4 linked regions of the Homo sapiens genome follow. The protein of the gene in region 4 purifies or fractionates together with the protein of the main gene of each other region. This does not show direct contact. Each region holds a gene or a part of one and is shown on either strand. Other genes may lie near its edges.

The links. The genes of interacting proteins can lie anywhere in the genome.
Region 1: the proteins of EMB (region 4) and RASSF2 purify together in Homo sapiens (affinity purification with mass spectrometry; one large-scale study listed by BioGRID and IntAct). This does not show direct contact.
Region 2: the proteins of EMB (region 4) and KIF20B purify together in Homo sapiens (affinity purification with mass spectrometry; one large-scale study listed by BioGRID and IntAct). This does not show direct contact.
Region 3: the proteins of EMB (region 4) and FAM174C purify together in Homo sapiens (co-immunoprecipitation; one large-scale study listed by IntAct). This does not show direct contact.

What each region holds. Positions count from the first base shown.
Region 1 is NC_000020.11:4,792,047-4,796,792, forward strand, and holds part of RASSF2 (ras association domain-containing protein 2), read right to left. Parts: intron 3,921-4,746; coding exon 3,769-3,920; intron 582-3,768; coding exon 493-581; coding exon of another isoform or gene 487-492; intron 1-486. UniProt on the Homo sapiens protein: Potential tumor suppressor. Acts as a KRAS-specific effector protein. May promote apoptosis and cell cycle arrest. Stabilizes STK3/MST2 by protecting it from proteasomal degradation.
Region 2 is NC_000010.11:89,721,406-89,726,151, reverse strand, and holds part of KIF20B (kinesin-like protein KIF20B), read right to left. Parts: intron 2,189-4,746; coding exon 2,049-2,188; intron 1,133-2,048; coding exon 994-1,132; intron 1-993. UniProt on the Homo sapiens protein: Plus-end-directed motor enzyme that is required for completion of cytokinesis. Required for proper midbody organization and abscission in polarized cortical stem cells.
Region 3 is NC_000019.10:1,273,570-1,278,891, reverse strand, and holds the start of FAM174C (protein FAM174C precursor), read right to left. Parts: upstream 3,363-5,322; 5' UTR 3,343-3,362; coding exon 3,062-3,342; intron 1,710-3,061; coding exon 1,593-1,709; intron 116-1,592; coding exon 115-115; 3' UTR 1-114.
Region 4 is NC_000005.10:50,413,390-50,418,135, forward strand, and holds part of EMB (embigin precursor), read right to left. Parts: intron 1-4,746. UniProt on the Homo sapiens protein: Plays a role in the outgrowth of motoneurons and in the formation of neuromuscular junctions.

The DNA of each region.
Region 1 (4,746 bases), on a different chromosome or scaffold from region 4:
TCAAGACCAGCCTGGCCAACATGGCAAAAACCCATCAGCACTAGAAATACAAAAATTAGCTGGGCATGGTGGCCCATGCCTTTAATCCCAGCTACTCAGGAGGCAGAGGTGGGAGGATCACTTGAACCCAGGAAGCAGAGCCAAGATTGCACTACTGCACTGCATCCTCCTGAGTGACAGAGGGAGATGGGAAGGGAAGGGAAGGGGAGAGGAGGGGAGGGGAGGGGAGGGGAGGGGAGGGGGAAAGAAACTACATCCACCCATAAAGACATGTCAGTGTGTTTTGCTTATATTTGCATGGACTATCCCACGAAGGATGTTCTCGGGATGCTTCTAGGTGGGTGGATGAGGTGGGTGACTTAATTCTCTCCCTTTGTATCTTGAACCATATACATTTTATATTCTCAAAAATAAATAACAGTTTACAACATCTATCACAGCGGTCTTCACACAGTTGGTCCCTAGCTGGAAGTACCTTCCACTCACATGTACCTGTGGAGCTTGGCATCTGGTCACCCTCCGGCGGGGCATCCACCTCTGAGATCTGAACTTTGGGCACAGTCAGGGGCTTCAGAGTGGTTCTGGGAGTGGAGAAGACAAAGGGGAGGGGGGAGACTAGTTTAAGCCCTGTGGAGAGACGCCCCCGCACCCGCTGGACCCCACTCCTGAAAGGGGAGCACTTTGCTAGTGCCAGGCTGGGTACTGGCACACATCAGGTGATGAAGGGTGCAGATGGGCTGCGCGGAGCATCCCGTGAAAGGCTGGCCCAGCTCCCAGGTCAAGCAGTGGGTGGGGCAGGGGGAGTTCCGGAGGGAGAAGATGTTCTTTTGCAGCAACTGCAGTAACACACCCAACCAATTCATCAAGCCCAGGATGGATAATACCAAGGAACAAAACCCACGTGTTGCCTGCACTGCTTCTAAGCATGTATGGATTCTATGGCTTACTTGGAAAACTCTAATAGTGGCCATTCGTTTTGCAGGGTAAGATTCCAGTTTAGACTCATTGCTGTTGAAGAAATAACTCATAATTGCTTCTGGCATTCAAAAGGAATGGAAAGTAATAAGTTGGCCACAACAAGGGCAGGGGCAGCTTTGGAAGGGACACTGACAGTGTTCTCAGCGTTGCAAGGATGGAGTCCTCATCCAAGCTGAAGAAAGGGTTACAAGCAGGCAGTCCAAGCTGAGACCCTGGTTTGCCATCATAACTGGCAAATAACTTCTCAAAGCCAAAAAGGACAAAGGGAGCAGCTCAGAAAAACATCCAAAATCAACAGAGGATTTGGCTAGAAAGGAGAATCATATTTGACCAATTAGGAACAACCCATGGTGAGAAGAGCATGGGCTCCCTGGGACCCAGTAGAGATAAACCTCATGTTCTGGGGAGGATCGTTTTAAGGAAGGACAATTAAAATGGAAAATCTGAAAGAACTTCCTATTGTAATTTAACTCATATACTTCTGAACCACAGAATGGACCTGGTCAGAGCTTCTGGGGAATGGTGAACACTTGGCACCCAGAGCAGCGACTCCCACTCCCTGATTTAAAGCCTTCATTCTTGCTGAAGCAGGAACCGGTCTCAGCATCCTTATTTTTTTTTTTTATTTTATTTTTTTGTAGAGACAGGGTTTCACCATGTTGCCCAGGCTGGTCTTGAATTCCTGAGCTCAAGTGATCACCCGCCTCAGCCTCCCGAAGTGCTGGGATTATAGGCACGATCCACCACGCACAGCCTCAGGATCCTTCTTAAGACAGCAGTCTAGGCATTCACTGTATTATAGCTGACATCTAAATGACACCATTTACCATTCCTGAAAATTCTACCAAAGTATTTTGCAGAGTCAGCCAGGACCAGCTTGATGCCGCAGAGAAGGGAGAAGAAGCAGGCGGACCGAAGGACCCTTTAGCAGCCCAAACCAAAGGCCACAGGCTCAAACGAAATCTTAAAAATCATCTCACTTAGGGAATAGAATAGTCTGGGGGTCAGGGTCAGGCTGTGAAATGGGCTTGGCCATTGGCAGTCAAATACAGCAATAATACAGTATAGTATAACAAATACAGTATAGTATAACAAATACAGTACAGTGTAACAAGTACAGCTGGGCATGGTGGCTCACACCTGTAATCCCAGCACGTTGGGAAGTCAAGGTGGGAGGATTGCCTGAGGCCAGGAGTTTGAGACCAACCTGTGCAACATAGTGAGACCCCATTTCTACAAAAAACATGAAAATTATCCAGGTAGGGCCAGTATGGTGGCTCACCCCTGTGGTCCCGGAACTTTGGGAGGTCAAGGAAGGTGGATATCTTGAGGTCATGAGTTCAAGACCAGCCTGGCCAACATGATGAAACCCCCTCTCTACCAAAAAATACAAAAATGGCTGGGTTTGGTGGTGGGCACCTGTAATCCCAGCTACTCAGGAGGCTGAGGCACGAATCGCTTGAACCCGAGAGGCAGAGGTTGCAGTGAGCCGAGATCGCATCACTGCACTCCAGCCTGGGCAACAGAAAAAAAAAAGGTCGGGGTGGGGCGGTGTGCACCTATAGTCCCAGCTGCTGGGGAGTCTGAGTTGGGAGGATCACTTGAGCCTAGGAGGTTGAGGCTGCAGTAAGCTGTGATTAAGCCACCGCACTCCAGCCTGGGAAACAGAGTGAGACCTTGTCTCAAACAAAACAAAACAAAAATATGGTGATAGTGCTGAAAAGCAGAGCATGAAACCTGCAAAGTTAGATGAAACCAAAGAACCTTAACCAGACATCCTAGCACCTATGGGGTGGGCAACAATTTTCCTCCTTAAATCCCCTTGGAAAGAAACCAGACCAGCCCCAGGGCTGGCCACATAGTAGGTTTCTCTCAATTGTAGAGAAACATAGATTTGGCTGTGGAGTTTAGCAAAATGTTCAATGTGGCCAACAGAGAGGGCTTGGTTTTCATTTAAACCAGAAAAAAAGGTCACTGTGGTTTTGGCTGAGAGGCGAGCACACTCCACCCAGGCTGGGGCCGAAGGCAGTCAGCATCAGCAGGTTTCAGGATGGAGACAGGCTAGTCACTTGATCCTAAAACTCAAGTCCCAGAAAGACAATAAAGAGGGCATGCCTTGCTAGAGGCATTTGGCGGCGCATTTGGCGGCTTATTCAGCCATGGAGGATAAGGAGGGATGGACTAGGTCTTCCCAGCCCTTCTGGTGGGAACTTAGACTACCACCATCTCACCAAACCCTGGCTCCCCGTATGGTCTGCAGGGAGCAGACCCCTGGCTGATCTCGCTTGGCTGACTCTGACAGAGCCTGACATTCCTTTTCCTCTTCTAGGTTCCCCCAAGATTCAGAGAGCTTTGGTCAGAAGGTTCAAGTCATAAATGCTTTGGAGTGGGGCTATTCTATGAGGAGTGGTCCCAGTGGGGAGGGTGCTGGGGCATGGGGCGCCCTGTTAGAAATATACAGGCTGGGCCTCACTAGCCACTAGCAGCTCCACTCAGAGACTCCTGAGTTCTCCCTAAGGGAGGACTCTGACTCAGCAGCTCCCCTCGTATGACTCAGCAGCTCCCCTCCTGTGACCTCATCAGTGATTGCAGTGACAGGAAGGGGGCTCAATCACAACCACATCTGCTGCTTGTTCCTCATTCCAAGGCTAAGGCAGGTGGGCAGTAGAGGTAGTAGGAGGAGGAGCCAGGGTCAGGGCTGGCTGGAAGAAGGCAGCATTTATCTGCTTGAGAACACATAGAACACCCAAGCATCCCAGTCATCTCCCTGCCCCGTCTCTCCTCACTCACCCCTGAGCCCCCAGGTTACAGCCAGAGTGCCAGGAGGAGGAGGATGGAGGGGGTCGAATGCGTTCGTTGTCATCCTGCATCTGCAGGCGAATGGGCCGGCGCAGGCCCCAGGAGATGTTCAGGAGCCCCTCCACAATGAACTCGTCTTCTTCCTGCCCACAAAGCAATCAGAGTAGTGAGCCTAGAAAAGCCCCCACAGAAGCCAAGACCATGCTGAGGGACAAATGACACATTCTTCACATGTCCTGGCTGGGGGCCCCCAGACTGTATTCACAGGATAGGGGCAGCTGCCCAGTTCACACCGCAGCTCTGAGATACTTTCTGACGTCAACTACTCCAGATCCTGAAGCTGACCTCACAGGTCAGCACAAAAGTTGCTGTGAAATTCAAATACATAGGTATAAATTATAAAAAGCATTGTTTTTCTTTTTATCCTAATGACTTTTAAAGAAAGCGGAATACATTTCTTAAAATAAGTGAGATTAGCCTTGTTAACAGAAGCAAGAACTGGAGTTAGCTACGTCCCATCCCCTACTACGGAAAATGATGTCTCTTTAGCTACAACATCTGTTTAGCAATCCAACCTGGTGGTTGAAGGAAATTTAAAGCAACATTTGCCGAAGTTTATTCTACAGAACACTAGCTCCTCTAGCAGATGAACTGCTGTCTTTAAAAGGGTGTCAAGTGATCATGAGCTGGGAGAGGCTGTGCTAATCAGATTTCCAAACAGCAGAATGTCCCAGGTTCTGTAATAAACTAACGGGCTAAATGACAACTCTCCAACAGGTGAATAAATCTTGCAGGAGTCCCCAATTTATACTCAAAGGTTGCTGACTAATTAGACATTAAATGTAAAACCATTCTAGAGGCATTTATATGTTCTATCCCGAAGAATTGGGACTCGCTTATGACTATGAAATCCTTTAATCATGAAGCACTTTTAATCATTTATTCTATAGGACATAACCCAGGAAAGCT
Region 2 (4,746 bases), on a different chromosome or scaffold from region 4:
TCCAATTATGAAAAACCTGTGTTCCATTATTTATTTTCTGCTGTATGGACCATGAGGCATATTTTCGCATAAAAACAATGTTACAAACTGTGACAAGTCATTATAGAACAATTATGATTACCTAGTTCAGGTATACTTTCAATTATATAATGAGACTTAAAAGGTTTTGTTGGGATAGTGCATGAAACAAACCTACATTTTCACAACTCAGTCAATCCCAAACCACGTCAAGGATACATAAGGTTTGCTTGACAGCAGACGTCTGGACATCACTGTCACAGGCACTTGAACTGAGTGATTAAAAAACTAAACAAAAACAAAAAAAAACCAACTCCCCCAAAAAACTGATCAATTTCAGCTTCAGTGGAAGCAGCAGAAAAGGATAATTTTTCTTATATTACAAGTAGAGAATAAGCTGAGCACAGTGGCGTGCACCTGTAATCTCAGCCACCTGGGAGGCTGGGCAGGAGGACTGCTTGAAGCCAGGAATTCAAGATCAGCCTGGGTAACACGGCAAGACCCTAACTCTAAAACTATAATAAATAAATAAACAAATAAAATTTTAAAAGAGTAAGAAACGGTAGTTGCCCGGCAAGGGCAACCCTTTTTATACATAAACATTTTTGTTTTAATCAGAACAGCAAGTAAATGACGTCTTAGGTCTCTTACACCTTTAAAATTCTTTTTATTTAAAAATGTTAAGTAAGACAAATCTCAAAAAAGAATCTATCTGCCTACAACACAATGATTCAAGCAATACCAAAATAAGATATATATATATATAACAGAGGTATAAATTTTTCAAAACCAATCATTATATTTAAATTCTTGGTGCCTTACACTTCTAAAAAAACATGCCTAATTATAATAAAGCTACACACAAAGCATTGTTTTAATTCTAAACTATCTTGGTGTTTCTCATCATTGATGTGGTACACTAAACCCTGGTACCAAAACCTCACTGGATATTTTTAAATACTTCAATTAACATACTTCAGTTTCAACTTTTGTGGCACAAATGTCTTTCGCTGCTTCTTCTCGAGTGTCACATTTACCAACCAAATCCTTGAAGATAGCCAAACGACGTTCAGCATTTTCTTCTAATATCTCTCGTTCTTGAAGCAGAGTCTCCCTTCAAAATACAAATTAATCCCATTAAGAAACAGAAAACGAACTACTTTGTGTTTTTGTTTTAAACATCTAAGTTTAAGTATATTCTAGATTAAAAGAAAATTTAGTCCAGGTACAGTGGTTCACGCCTGTAATCCCAGCAATTTGGGAGGCGGAGGCGGGTGGATCACTTCAGGCCAGGAGTTTGAAACCAGCCTGGCCAACACAGCAACACCGTCTCTACTAAAAACACAAAAATTAGCTGGGCGTGGTGGTGTGTGCCTGTAATCCCAGCTACTCAGGAGGCTAAGGCAGGAGAGGCTAAGGCAGAAGAATTGCTTGAACCCAGGAGGTGCAGGTTGCCGTGAGCCAAGATCGCACCACTCAATACCAGCCTGGGTGACAGCACAAGACTCCATCTCAAAAAATTAAAATTTAAATTTAAAAAAGAGAGAAAATTTAAATAACCATGCATGGGATTAGTTACAGCTATATTCTTTTTTTTCTTCTCTGAGACAAGAGTCTCACTCTGTCGCCCAGGCTGGAGTGCAGTGACACAATCTCAGCTCACTGCAACCTACACCTCCCAGGTTCAAGAGATTCTCGTGCCTCAGCCTCCTGAAAGCAGCTGGGACTTCAGGAACATGCCAGTACGCCCAGCTAATTTTTCTATTTTTAGTACAGACGAGGTTTCACCATGTTGGCCAGGCTGATCTCGACCTCCTGACCTTCAGTGATCCGCCTGCCTAGGCCTCCCAAAATGCTGGGATTACAGGCGTGAGCCACCGCACCAGACCAGTAACAGCTATTTTCAAGCTTGTATAAAGAGATCAGAATTCAGAAGCCACCTAATATAAAAAGTAAACTAAGTAAAAAAAAAAACTAAAAAACTAAATAAAATTCTCAATTTTTACCTGGACATGAAATAAATAACTTACTTAAAGTCAGCTTCCCGTTGAGCCCAATACTGAGTAAACTCCTGTGTAACTTCTTCTCGAATTTTAAATTCCAAGGTTAATTTTTCCTTTTTTTCATTTATCAGTTTTTTTTTCAAGTCTTCTATTAAGTCCAACAGTTTCTATTACATGTAAATGATAAAATTCTTATAAAAGAATAAATATATCCCAAGAGAAATACCGTCCAACTGTTCAAAAAATAAAACTTTACATTTAGTCAATTGTAATTCTGTGTCCTTTTTAATAGTGATAATGTTCTCACTGAAAATTATATGTTTGCAAAGATTTGTTAACTGAAAAATCAGGTTGGCCTTTCCACATTTTAGAAATAGACCTTTGGTAACTCGTCTCACTGTTTAGCTATACTAAGAAAATAAGTAAAGTTAATTAGTGCATTTATTATCTATCAAGAACTACTCTGGGGAGTTCCATATTTGCTTCATTTAATCCACAACTTTCTGTGAGCTTGGTATCATCCATATTTCACAGGTGGGAAGCATAAGGATCAGATCTCTGGTAAATGCTAAAGGTTGAGTTTAAAAGTGGCCTGTAAAAGTCTAAAGCCCAAGGATTGCATACACCAGAGAAGTTGCTAAGAACACCCACTTACTAATCTGTCAAATAAAGATGTTACATAAACTTATATTAGGCTTTTATAACTATCCAGATGTCAACAGCAATTCTATAGCCTTTGAAACACATACATAATCATGAAAAATGTGCAATATATAAATAAAGCAATAAATAAAACACTTAACATGACCATTATACATTCATAACATAAATTGTAGCATTAAGGAAACAGCTACATATTCTTTTTAATGTTTCTATTTAAAGTTACTCAACAACAAATTAAACAATAAACTCTAAGCTACAGATCTTCCAATGTCTCAACTTTATATTTGAAAATAGTTCTACAGCTATCCAGACTTTGAAACTCTGCCTCCAAGAATTTATACTGAAAATAATTATAATATAACCCCATGTTCTGGTTGTATGAATGCTGATCACAGTGTTGTTGTTTTGTGATGGTAGTTGTGTTTAAATAATGAAAAAGTGAACCCAACTCAACCAATGTTAAAGGATTGGTTTAATTATGGTACTACCATAAACTACCGTAATCAATGATAACCTATATTAATAATTCATACTTTTCACAATTTATTTTTATATAAAGAATACCAGGTTACAAAACAGTAATATATAATAAAAATCCATTAACATTCATGGTAGATTTGAGAGATCTTTATATTTAGATTTTCTTTTTCACTCTACTATAAATACATAATACTATTTTAATAATTTTAAACTACATACTTTCTGAGTAAAACAATAAATAATAACTATTGAAGGAGACATCAGAATGAATGTGGAAAAACCTTGGGAAGTTTGTTTATTTTATTTATTTATTTTTTTTGAGACGGAGTCTCACTCTGTCGCCCAGGCTGGAGTGCAGTGGCTCGATCTCGGCTCACTGCAACCTCCGCCCCCCAGGTTCACGCCATTCTCCTGCCTCAACCTCCCGAGTAGCTGGGACTACAGGCGCCAGAAACCACGCCTGGCTAATTTTTTGTATTTTTAGTAGAGACAGGGTTTCACCGTGTTAGCCAGGATGGTCTTAATCTCTCAACCTCATGATCCACCCACCTTGGCCTCCCAAAGTGCTGGGATTACAGGCATGAGCCACCGCGCCTGGCGGGAAGTTTAATAGTTTTCAATAATTAGGTTTTATCATTGTTAGCATCTGATAAAGTTTTTGCTGAAAAAATTTAGGCTGGCTATTACAGCTAAACGAATTTAAGTATATGTATGCTAATACCAAGGTATTTTATAATGGTTTTTAAAAGTCCCAATCCTTTAATTAAAATGTCAAGAAAGGGCTGGGCACATTGACTCACATCTGTAATCCCAGCGCTTTGCAAGGCAGGAGGATTGCCTGAGCCCAAGGGTTCAAGATCAGCCTGGGCAATAGAGCAAGGCCTCATGTCTACAAAACATTTTTAAAAATTAGTTAGGGGTGGTGGCATGCATCTGTGGTCCCAGCTACTCAGGAGACTGAGGCAAGAGGATCACTTGAGCCCAGGATTTCGAAGCTGCAGTGAGCCATAACTACACTATTGCACTCCAGCCTAGGTAACAGAGCAAGACTTTGTCTCTAGAAGAAAAAAATAAAGCATGCCAACACCTAATCATATTGATTTTTAAATGTCAAATATTAGACATTTTGATGAATTTCCTTAAAATATTTAGTCAATCTTATATGATAAGCATTTATACTATATAATCCATCATAAACTATAGCATTAAATATTTTTCTCTAGTAATTTCAGAAATTTTACTAACCAACATTATACAAAAATTTCAACTTTGAAATGAAAAAAAAAAACTGGGTTTTTTGGTTTGTTTCTTTGTTTTTAAGACAAGGTCTCACTCTGTCACCCAGGCCAGAGTGCAGTAGTGCAGTGATGGCTCACTGCTGCCTAGAAATCCTGGGCTCAAGCAATCTTCCCACTGCAGCCTCCCAAGTAGCTGGGACTACACCTGTGCATCATCATGCCTAACTAATTTTACTTTTTTGTAGAGATGGGGTCTCACTATGTTGCCCAGGCTAGTTTTGAACTCCTGAGCTCAAGCAATCCTCCTACCTCAGCTTCCCAAAGTGCTCGAATTACAGGTGTGA
Region 3 (5,322 bases), on a different chromosome or scaffold from region 4:
CCGGGGCCAGCAGGGGAATGAGCGGTGGAGCAGGGGGTTGCTGGGCACTGGGGTGGGCCCCATCTCCTGTCCTTCCCTCATGGCTGCTGGAAGGGCCGCCTCCCTGGCTCAGCATCTGAAAGCAGGGGGTCAAGGGTGAGAGGGAAGGAGTGAAGGGCCCGCCCTGCCGGGCAGAGGCTCACCCAGGTCAGGCAGGGGCAGGCAGCCTGTCCAGGCCCCTCGGTCTACCAGGGCCCAGCCTCCCCCCACTGGCCTCCCTCCCCGGCCTCCTGGGCCCTGTGCAACTGCCCACTCCGGGGGAAGGGGCCCCCAGCCAGGAGGTAGAAGAAACCTGGGAGGGGTTCCCAGAATGGAGTCAGAGCATGCGGAGGGATCCCAGTGCCTCCCTCCCTGGGGGCTCAAAAAGTCAGAGCTGTCCCCAGAGGCCGCCCAGTCTCCTGGTCTCCCAGCCTCCATGCCTGCCACCCCCCAACAGGCCAAGGTCCCCCCAGCAGCCACACTGCAGCGCAACATACCCATCATTCCCTGCCCAGAACCCTGCTAACCCCTGACAGCTGCCTCGATGCCCAGGCCTACCCCAGTCCCGCCCGGCATCTGCGCAGCCCGGCCGCTCCCTGCTGTTCCCTCGGCCTGAGACACTCTTCCAGAAGCCAGCCCCATTACACCAGGGAGAGGCCCTCCCTGACCCCGCCCGCTCAGAAGCATCCTGCAGTCAGTTCTCCACCTGACTTAGACCTCATCCCTCAGGGAGGGGCCCAGATGGAGCAACCACTACCCTAAGCCCTGCAGCCGCTTTCCTGCCTTAAAAAAGCAAGAAGGCTGACCACGGTGGCTCACACCTGTAATCCCAGCACTTTGGGAGGCCGAAGCGGGCAGATCACCTGAGGTCAGGAGTTCGAGGCCAGCCTGGCCAACATGGTGAAACCCTGTCTCTACTAAAACTACAAAAATTAGCCGGGTGTAGTGGTGAGCACCTTTAATCCCAGCTACTCAGGAGGCTGCGATGGGAGAAATGCTTGAACCTGGGAGGTGGAGGTTGCAGTGAGCAGAGATCGTGCCATTGCACTCCAGCCTGGGCAACAAGAGCGAAACTCCATCTCAAAACAAAACAAAACTTAGGTCAGGTGCGGTGGCTCACACCTGTAATCCCAGCTCTTTGGGAAGCCCAGGCAGATGGATCACCTGAGGTAAGGAGCTGGAACCCAGCCTGGCCAACATGGTGAAACCCCATCTCTATCTACTAAATACAAAAAATTAGCGAGGCGTGGTGGCGGGTGCCTGTAATCCCAGCTACTCGGGAGGCTGTGGCAGGAAAATCGCCTCAATCCCGGAGGCGGAGGTTGCAGTGAGTTGGGATCGCGCCACTCCACCTCAAAAATAAATAAATGACAAACATTTAAGTTTAAAAAAAAAAAGTTGTAAATGGAGGCTGGGAGAAGGGATGAGCCCTGCCCAGTGGGGCCATGGCCTGACTACCGCTGTCAGCTGTGATTGCAGGGACCACTCCATGGCTTGGCCAAGTCCCCAGGGTCCTGCTGAGTCTCCAGCCCAGCCTGCCCACCGAGGCCCCAGAGCTGGGGAAGGGTGCACACCATCTCAGATTCCGGGACTCAAACACCGTCTCCTCGTCGCTGTCCAGCGAGGCCATCTCCGTGGGGTCCTCAGTGTTGGCGAGGAGGCCGTATCGCCTCCGCTGAGGCTTCTTCAACCTGGAAGTAGGTCCAGGCATAGTCAGTGGCCCCTCCCCGCCAACCCTGCCTCCTCCTTCCCTCAGGACTCTCATTGCCGTCCTCTACTGGAGCCCCGAGCCCTGCTGCAGACCTCCCTGGTTTTGCTGTGCCTGCTTCTTTCATGTCCTAATCGCCAAGTGATTACCATTCACTCCCATGGCGATGACAGTAAGAAGACATGTGCCCTACCAGGCCCTCCCATCTCCCCTGCGCCAGGACCCCAGGAGAGGCACGCTGATGTCACTCCCATTGCACTGATGAAAAGACTGAGGCTCACACAGGGGTGAGACTTTGCCAAAGACAACAGAATGGAAGCCTGTCTCAGGGCCAAGCCCCTGGTGGCCCCAGCAGCCCGGGAGGCAGGGAGGGCGCGGCATACAGGCAGGGGAGAGCGCGCAGCAGGTGCTTCCACAGGAAGAGGTGTGGAGCACAGGGGAGGCTCTGCACAGGGCCCATAAAAAGCAGCATGGCGGAGTGCAGGTGCTCACATCTATAATGCCAGCACTTTGGGAGGCCAACGAAAAAGGATCACTTGAGCCCAGGAGTTCAGACCAGCGCGGGTAACATGGCGAGACCCCATCGCTACAATAAAAACTTATAAAAAATAAAAAGCGGCTTGACTTTGCCAGGGTGGTGATGGGGAGGGATAAGGTCCTCGCTGTGTCTCTCCCACCCGGGAGAAGCAGCCACACTGGGTAGTCAGGAGCCCAGAGGAGACTGGAGCCACAGGCCAGGGAAGCCGGGGTGGCCTGAACACGCAGAAGCCCCTCCTGCCCAGGGGCTGCCTACAGCTGGAGACCCCCGCGAGGGTCTGGGGACGCAGCTGCACCTCCCGGGCTGTGGGAGCACCCAAGGCGGGCACGTGGCCGACCCTGGCGACGAACCAGCTTCAGTGGGTAGAAGCAGAAAGGAAAATATCGGGACCCCACGGAAAGGCCTGGCGGCAGGCGGGAAGATGAGAACGAGGACGGGCATCCGGCGACAAGGAGCCAAGGAGGCCCCCTCGCCCCGCCAGGGCCTGACCCCTGCCCGGCATGCTCCGGCTTCAGTGGCCCCACCTGGGAAACGGGCAGCGTCACCCCCGAGTTAAGAGGCGGCGCGCTGGGCACCTCCAACCCCAGGCGCAGGCTGGAGAGCGGGTGAGTCCCGTGGCCCCTGCACCGCCCACACCACGTGACGACCCCGCACAGCACCGCCCACGCCCACTCCAACAGGGAGAGAGGGAGGGAGGGAGGGAGGGAGGGGAGGACCCCGCGGCCCGGCACGTGACGCACTAGGCGCGCGCTAATTGGCCAAGGCTGAGAGACGGCGCCCACGTGCGCCTGACGCACCTAAACGCCCGGATCAGGAAGTAGAGCGCGGTCAGGCCGCAGAAGCCCAGGATCACGTAGAAGGAGCGCGTCAGCGCCGAGCCCGACGCCCCCGGCGGACGCGTGTGCGTGCTGTTGTGTGGCGCGCCCGGCTGGCTCCCGTTCGTCACGGCCGGCGGCGGCGACAACGTGACCTGCGCGGGGCGCAGCGGCGAGGCCTCTTCGGCACCGCACGGCAGCGCCGCCAGCAGCAGCGCCAGCAGGAGCAGCAGCAGCGGCGGCTGCAGCACGCGCGGCCCCATGGCCCGGCGGAAGCGGTGGCGGCGCCCCGCCCCTATGCGCGCTGTCAGTCAGGCGCGCGGAGGTGATGCCAGCCAATGGGGCGCGGAGGCGGAGCTTGACGCCGGGCCCCGCCTCCGCCTGGTGAGCCCCGGCGCTACCCACAGTGCCCCGCGCGCCCGCCGCGGAACTTGCTTCGTCGAACCGCTCCAAGGGATCAGGACGGAGGCCCGGAGCCCGCCCGTGGGAGTCCCGGCAAGGCGCAGCCGGCAGAGCCCAGAACTGCCAGCCCAGCGTGGGGGGTCGCGGCTTCCGAGGAAATCGGGCTGGCAGCGGGGAGACGGGGCGGACCCCGACTTCAGGACCTCGGGCCGCTCATTCCCACCCACTTCGGGGCGACCCCCGCCACTCCTGCCCCGGCCTCACGGACACTGAGAACGCGTCGGCCACGTCCAGGGCCCAGGAAGGTGGCGCCCCGCTCCCAAGCCTGCTACAGGGAACCCGGGACTCGGCCCAAGACGGGGCCTGACAGCGGCTGCGCGGCCGCCGCTCCCTCGAAGCCGAGTGCGCCTCAGATCCCGCGAGACTGGAGTCTCCGCGCTGCGAACCCCCTCAGTGGCGAGCCCCCCGCGGTCACTGCTCGGACAATGACCCTTGCAGTCTTCCCTGTCGGGTCCTACTCGTGCGCTGAACCGAGGTCCGCAGGCTTTTCTTCCAGTGGCCCCGCTCCGCCGACAGACCCCCCTGAACCACAGACTCGGCTTTCTGGGTGCACACGTGGCCCTTTATTCGAATCCGACTTTCACAGGGCTCCACATCGTTGTGGGCAAGGACTGGCCGCCCCGTAAGCTGCCGGCGCACCGCAGCCCGTGCTCCAGGAGAGACTCGAGGCCCTGAGCCCGCACCTCACTGGCGAAGCGCCTCCTGGAAGGAGGAGGAAGGGAGGGAGAACAGGCGCGGGCTCCAGGCGGGGGACCCGGCGCTCCCGGGAGGCGCTGCCCTGCACCCAACACACACCGAAAGGCGCCCGCCATGGGGCCATAGGTGCGGGAGAGCAGGACTCACTGAAACGCCCAGGTGCCGCCCGGGACAGGGCTCAGCGCCACATGCCACTCTTCCCGAAAGCACTTACAGGGGACAAGCCTCCTGGGCAAGCGGCTGCCTCCAGCTCTTGTTCCAGGTGAAGTCCCTCCTGGGACAGTGACCCCAGAGGTCATCGCTGCTCTCAGGCCACCCTTCCCCGAGTCCTGGCCGGGCCCCTTCAACCTGCCAAAGCAAAGCAGCGTTACTCCCAACGTCCTCCACAGGGCTCACAGCTGCCCCTCCCGGCCTCCCCGGAAACAGCCACAGCCCCTAGGAAGGTCTCAGGCTAGTCAGGGGGCTGTGACCTCAGGCTCCGTCACAGGCCAGCATGCCCAGGGCGGGTCTGCACCTTGGCGCAGCTGGAGCCAGCTACCCGTATGGGATGGAGCTATGTGGGCCAGTGTGGGCTCTAGAAAAAAACTAATGGCGGCAACAGACATCAGAGAAAGCTAAGTTAAGAGTGTGACTTAAAGAGGTCTGGAAAAGACGGTCAATTGAGCAAAAAATCCAAAAGGCGGGGGCGTTCACTGGTCTTCAATCCTGCTTAAGGGATTTCATCTATGAGCCAGGCATGACTGGGCCCAGGCTGCACCTGGCTGCACGTGGGGAGCGTAATGGCTGGGCCTGACTTTAGTTCCAGCTTAATTGAAAAAAACAAAAACAAAGTTAAAAAAAAAAGGAAAAACAAAAAACAGTCACAGGAACATTCCCCGGGCACATGACTTTCAGTGAGCTCTCAACAAGAGGGATGTGGACACGAGCGGAAGGAGTTACCTCGAATTACAGGGCTATTTCCACATATGAGCTAGCCAAGGGAGCAGCTTGCGTCTCAGAGGGTTCTGTTGGGCGCACAACACTTCTGTCCTCCGAGGGCTGCAGCTTCCATAGGCTAGCAGAGAATGCTCAGAACTCGTGAAGCA
Region 4 (4,746 bases):
TATAGTCTTGTTAAAAAAAGGTGCTGGAGGAGGTTCTTGAAACTGGTTAAGTCTCTGGATCCAATTCCCAGTTTACAGGAAACATGGATTATAGAAGAACACATTAACCTACATTTCATGAAAGTAATCAACAAAATCCAGATTCTGGGAAAATTCTACAAATAAATGATCTGGTTTTTTCTTTTTCTTTCTTTCTTTTTTTTTTTTTTGAGATGGAGCCTCGTTGCCCAGGCTGGAGTACAATGGTGTCGTCTCAGCTCACTGCAACCTCCGCCTCCCGGATTCAAGCGATTCTCCTGCCTCAGCCTCCCAAGTAGCTGGGATTACAGGCGCCTGCCACCATGCCTGGCTAATTTTTTTGTATTTTTAGCAGAGATGGGGTTTCACCATGTTGGCCAGGCTAGTCTCAAACTCCTGACCTCAGGCGATCTGCCTGCCTTGGACTCCCAAAGTGATGAGCCACCGCACCTGGCCTGGTTTTTTCAATAGACAAATTTTAAAAGGGAGAGAGATGTCTTTGTATCGGACGTCAGGTGCTATGTTTGGGGCACCTGAAGATTATAAGATACTCAAAAAATACTATTAAAAGAAAAGCAAAACTGAACTGTAATATTTAGGGATGCATACCTGGGTAATAAAGCAATACAGAAAAGCAAGAAAGTGACTGCATAAAAATCAGAATAGTGGTAATTACTCTTAAGGGGAAGAGAAGGAGTTGTGTTTGGAAGACGGTAGTATATCATATAAACAAATTTCTCAAGCTCTTCTCATTCTCAATAATGGTATAGTATGATGAAATGTAGAATGCAGAGCCAAAATGTAGAAAGAAAAATAATACAACTCAAATAAAATGGTCAGGTGCAATGGTTCATGCCTGTGATCCCAGTAATTTGGGAGACTGAGGTGTGTGGGATTGCTTGAGCACAGGCATTCCAGACCAGCCTGGCCAACATGGTGAGACCTCATCTCCACAAAAAAAAAGAAAAAATTAGCCAGGCTTGGTAGTGCATGCCTGTGGTCCCATCTAGTCTCAGGTAGAGGTGGGAAGATCTCTTGAGCCCGAGAGTTGAGGCTGCAGTGAGCTAAGGTGGCACTACTGCACGCCAGGCAAGGTGATAAAGCAGGGCCCTGTCTCAGGCAAAAAAAAAAAAAAAAAAAAAAAAAAAATTCTATCACTTTTAATTACATTTGAAACTTTACGAAATGCTTCCATAAGCAAGGACCAGATGCAAGGTTTGCAGATAGTGAAGTACAGCTCGTGCAAAGTGCTTTGTGAGCACATGCTTGAAATAACTGCTTGTAAAATTGCAAAATTGCTGAATTGAATTTAATGCTCAAAAAGAAAAATAATATTTGATGTCTCTAGAATACATATATTGCCAGAGACTACCTTATTCCTTGCAGTTCCCTTTACTGTGCTCTATTTCACTATCCTAGTATATTTTAAACATTTTGCTAGCCACACCAAATTATTCCAACTACCTTTTAAATGTTGGTGCCCATCAGGATTTTGCTCTCTGGTCTCTTTACTTCTCAATTTGGCACTTCTTTGTTGGATTCAACTATTAACTCTAATGCTCTTTACTTGCAAAATTAGAACCTCCACTGAAGTCGTTTTTTTATTTTACAGCTCCAGGTGTCTACGGAGCATCTAAATCTGGATATCCCATGAGAACTTCAAACTCAAAATATCCAAGAGATCCATTAATATTCCCTTGTGCTGACCTATAACACTGAATCACATGCAGTAGTATTTAGTTGATTCTACCGCTAAAATGTCAAACAAATTTGCCCAGTTTTATCCAACCCTCCTATTATTGGCCTTCATTATCTTTCACCAAGACCAGGTAAATTATCTAATTTCTCTTGGCCAGCTTCTCTTGCTCCAACCAAAGGACAACTTTGGTTGGAGCAATTTAAGCAAAACTCAAATTGTTTAACTGCCTTGATTCTATACCTTGCATGTGCAAATCAAAGTATCTTTGTATTAGACATCAGTTTCCTTATTTGTAAGGTGGGACAATAATATTCCATGAGATTGTAAAAAGTTCTATCATAAGAAACGTCAACAGTAATATAATATAGCAATTAATAAATGCCCACTTACTTCTTCTCACCATTATCTCACTGGGGAATATTATAAAAACTATCATATATGGTGCTAAGGGTTATATGTTGATTAAATAATTTAATCTTCACAACAGCTTTATGAGGTAAGTATCACTGCTACAATTCCAACTTTAGAGATGAGGCAAAGAGAGGCTATTTTGTCTAAGATTACACATCAAGACAAAGGCAACACTGAATCTCAGATTTAGGTATGCCTGAGTCCAGACTGTGATAACCAACAGAATATACCAACTCTCAAACATATTAAATTCTCATTACAATGGAATTAACTTCATCACCTTCAAACTGTTGAAACAAGATTTTAAATAAAAGAAAATATTAATAGAAGATTAAAGAAATGTACAGTGTAGCTATATACCAATATGAATGCGATGATAAAATGAACAGTGCAATCAAAATATTTTAAAAATACACATTTTCAACTAAACATAGTTTTACATAACTTAAAGTGCAACACAGTTTTTCTTAATGGTAGGCCATCCTCCAAGCCCTAATCGTTGTCTCACTGTTTCCTATAATACTTTGCAGGTGCTTCTGCAGTTTGCTGTGCTTCTGCAGTTTGCTTTCCTTCCTGTCAAGAAATCACAGCATCAAAAACATGCAAAAAGCTCTACCTTTTTACATATTTTGTGGTTAGCCAACAAACTAATGTGAGCTCAGTCAACGATGTTTCAACTTCCTTAATACTGCACAACTGCAATGCATTTTTGCTGCTTTAGAGTGCTGCAAAAACATCTATGACATCTGCATTTCTAAAACGATAACAATTTGTTGTTTTTGAAACGTATTTTCAAGACTGTTCTTAAAACCATATAGTAATTTATACCTGTCTAAATAATTTCTTATTTTCATAGGTAACATTTTTAAAGTATATGGGCCTTTCAACAATTTGCAGTCTTCAGAGAAATGACATTTAGATTTTCTTGGGTCTATTCAGGACCCAATCTTGTAAACCATTTCACTAGAAATAAAAGTCTGCTTTGTTCTTTATTAAGAAAAAGAAAATATGGAAGAAGCCAATTAAAATTTATTGCATAGGATAGTGTTTCCAAACATGCTTTAAAGATAGAAACCCTTACTAAACACAGTTAAGTGAACTGTGACATATACGACGGATTCGATGGGACAACTCTGACAGAAGCCAAGATAGAAAATACAGAGCCCTATCAGCCTGACTTTTCATTATTCATAATGAGGTAGGAGGTGGAATGTGACTCTGGACCAGATTGAAGACTGACAGAAACAAGGAAGAGGCAACGAAAGATCCTCTCCGTAAGACACACCCACCAGCACCATGACAGTTTACCATTGCCATGGCTACACCCAGAAGTTACCATCCCTTTCCATGGCAATGACCCAGAAGTTACCTTCTGTTTTCTAGAAATTTCTGAATACCTTGTCCCTTAATTTGCACATAATTAAAAGTAGTATAAACATGGCTGCAGAACTGGCCCTGAGCTGCTACTCTTGACACACTGCCCAGGGGTACCCCTGCTCTGAAGGAGAAGTCACAGAGCTGTAACAACCCTGCCTCAATAAAGCTGATTTTTCTACCACCAGCTCACTCTTGAATTCTTTCCTGAGCCAACCTTCTCGGGCTAAACCCCAATGTTCGGATTCACCTGCCCTGTAATAATTTCACCATAAAAGTCAATAAAGCTTCATGATGCAACCCAAAATGTCTATTAAACATCCAGAATCCTTACAGAAACAGAAGGCCACACTAACATGAGGCCAACACCCCTATATAAAAATGATACAATGGATCTTATTTTTATCATTAATGTTGTGCGTCTTAAACATATGGAGTTAACTTATGAATAAGAATAAAATTCTCAAAGTTTATATCCAAAATTTATAAAACATAATACTAATCCCTTGATTCTTGTAATTTCACTTCTCTCCCAAATAAGTCTCATATGGATTGAAGAATCATGATGGTTTATTAAGTGATCCTATCAACAAGTTATTTACATGCCATCTGATTAGTGCCACACCAATGTGATACAGCCTAAAACACACGTGCTTCCTGAATCCCATAAACTTAAAATGTGAAATCACCAATGTGCACAGAGAAACCTGAAATTATATAAACCCAACTTGAGTAAAATGTAGTACATATACCTTGATATACTTTTTTATATGTATATAAAATCTCCAAGTAATCCCTGGAGACTCCCTCAAGACCTATGAACTATGTGGCTGGTGTTATATGAGCTGAGCCTATTTTCAAACTTTTAGAATTTTTTTTACACAGACATCCTCAAAAGAAAGAGAAATACCAGAAAACATGAATGGCTTCTACACAAATGAAGCCAGGTTTTCCAAAATAATTCATCAAAGATTTGGCAATATTTTGGAAAATATGTTAAAATTATTTAAGAGGAGATGCTAGTTGAATTTCACTAAACAAAGCTCCTATCAGTCACTGTTTTCCTCCACTTCATTTAGTAACAGAAATTAAGGCATGTAATGGTTATTTCTCTACTTTCTAAACTGATTTAACATCATTTCAAAGAAAAACAAAAACAATTCTGTTTGAATTCCAGAATTGCATGTCTCTTGTTTCAACAATGCAGTATTTAATTTGAGACAATAACATTGGGTAATAATCCA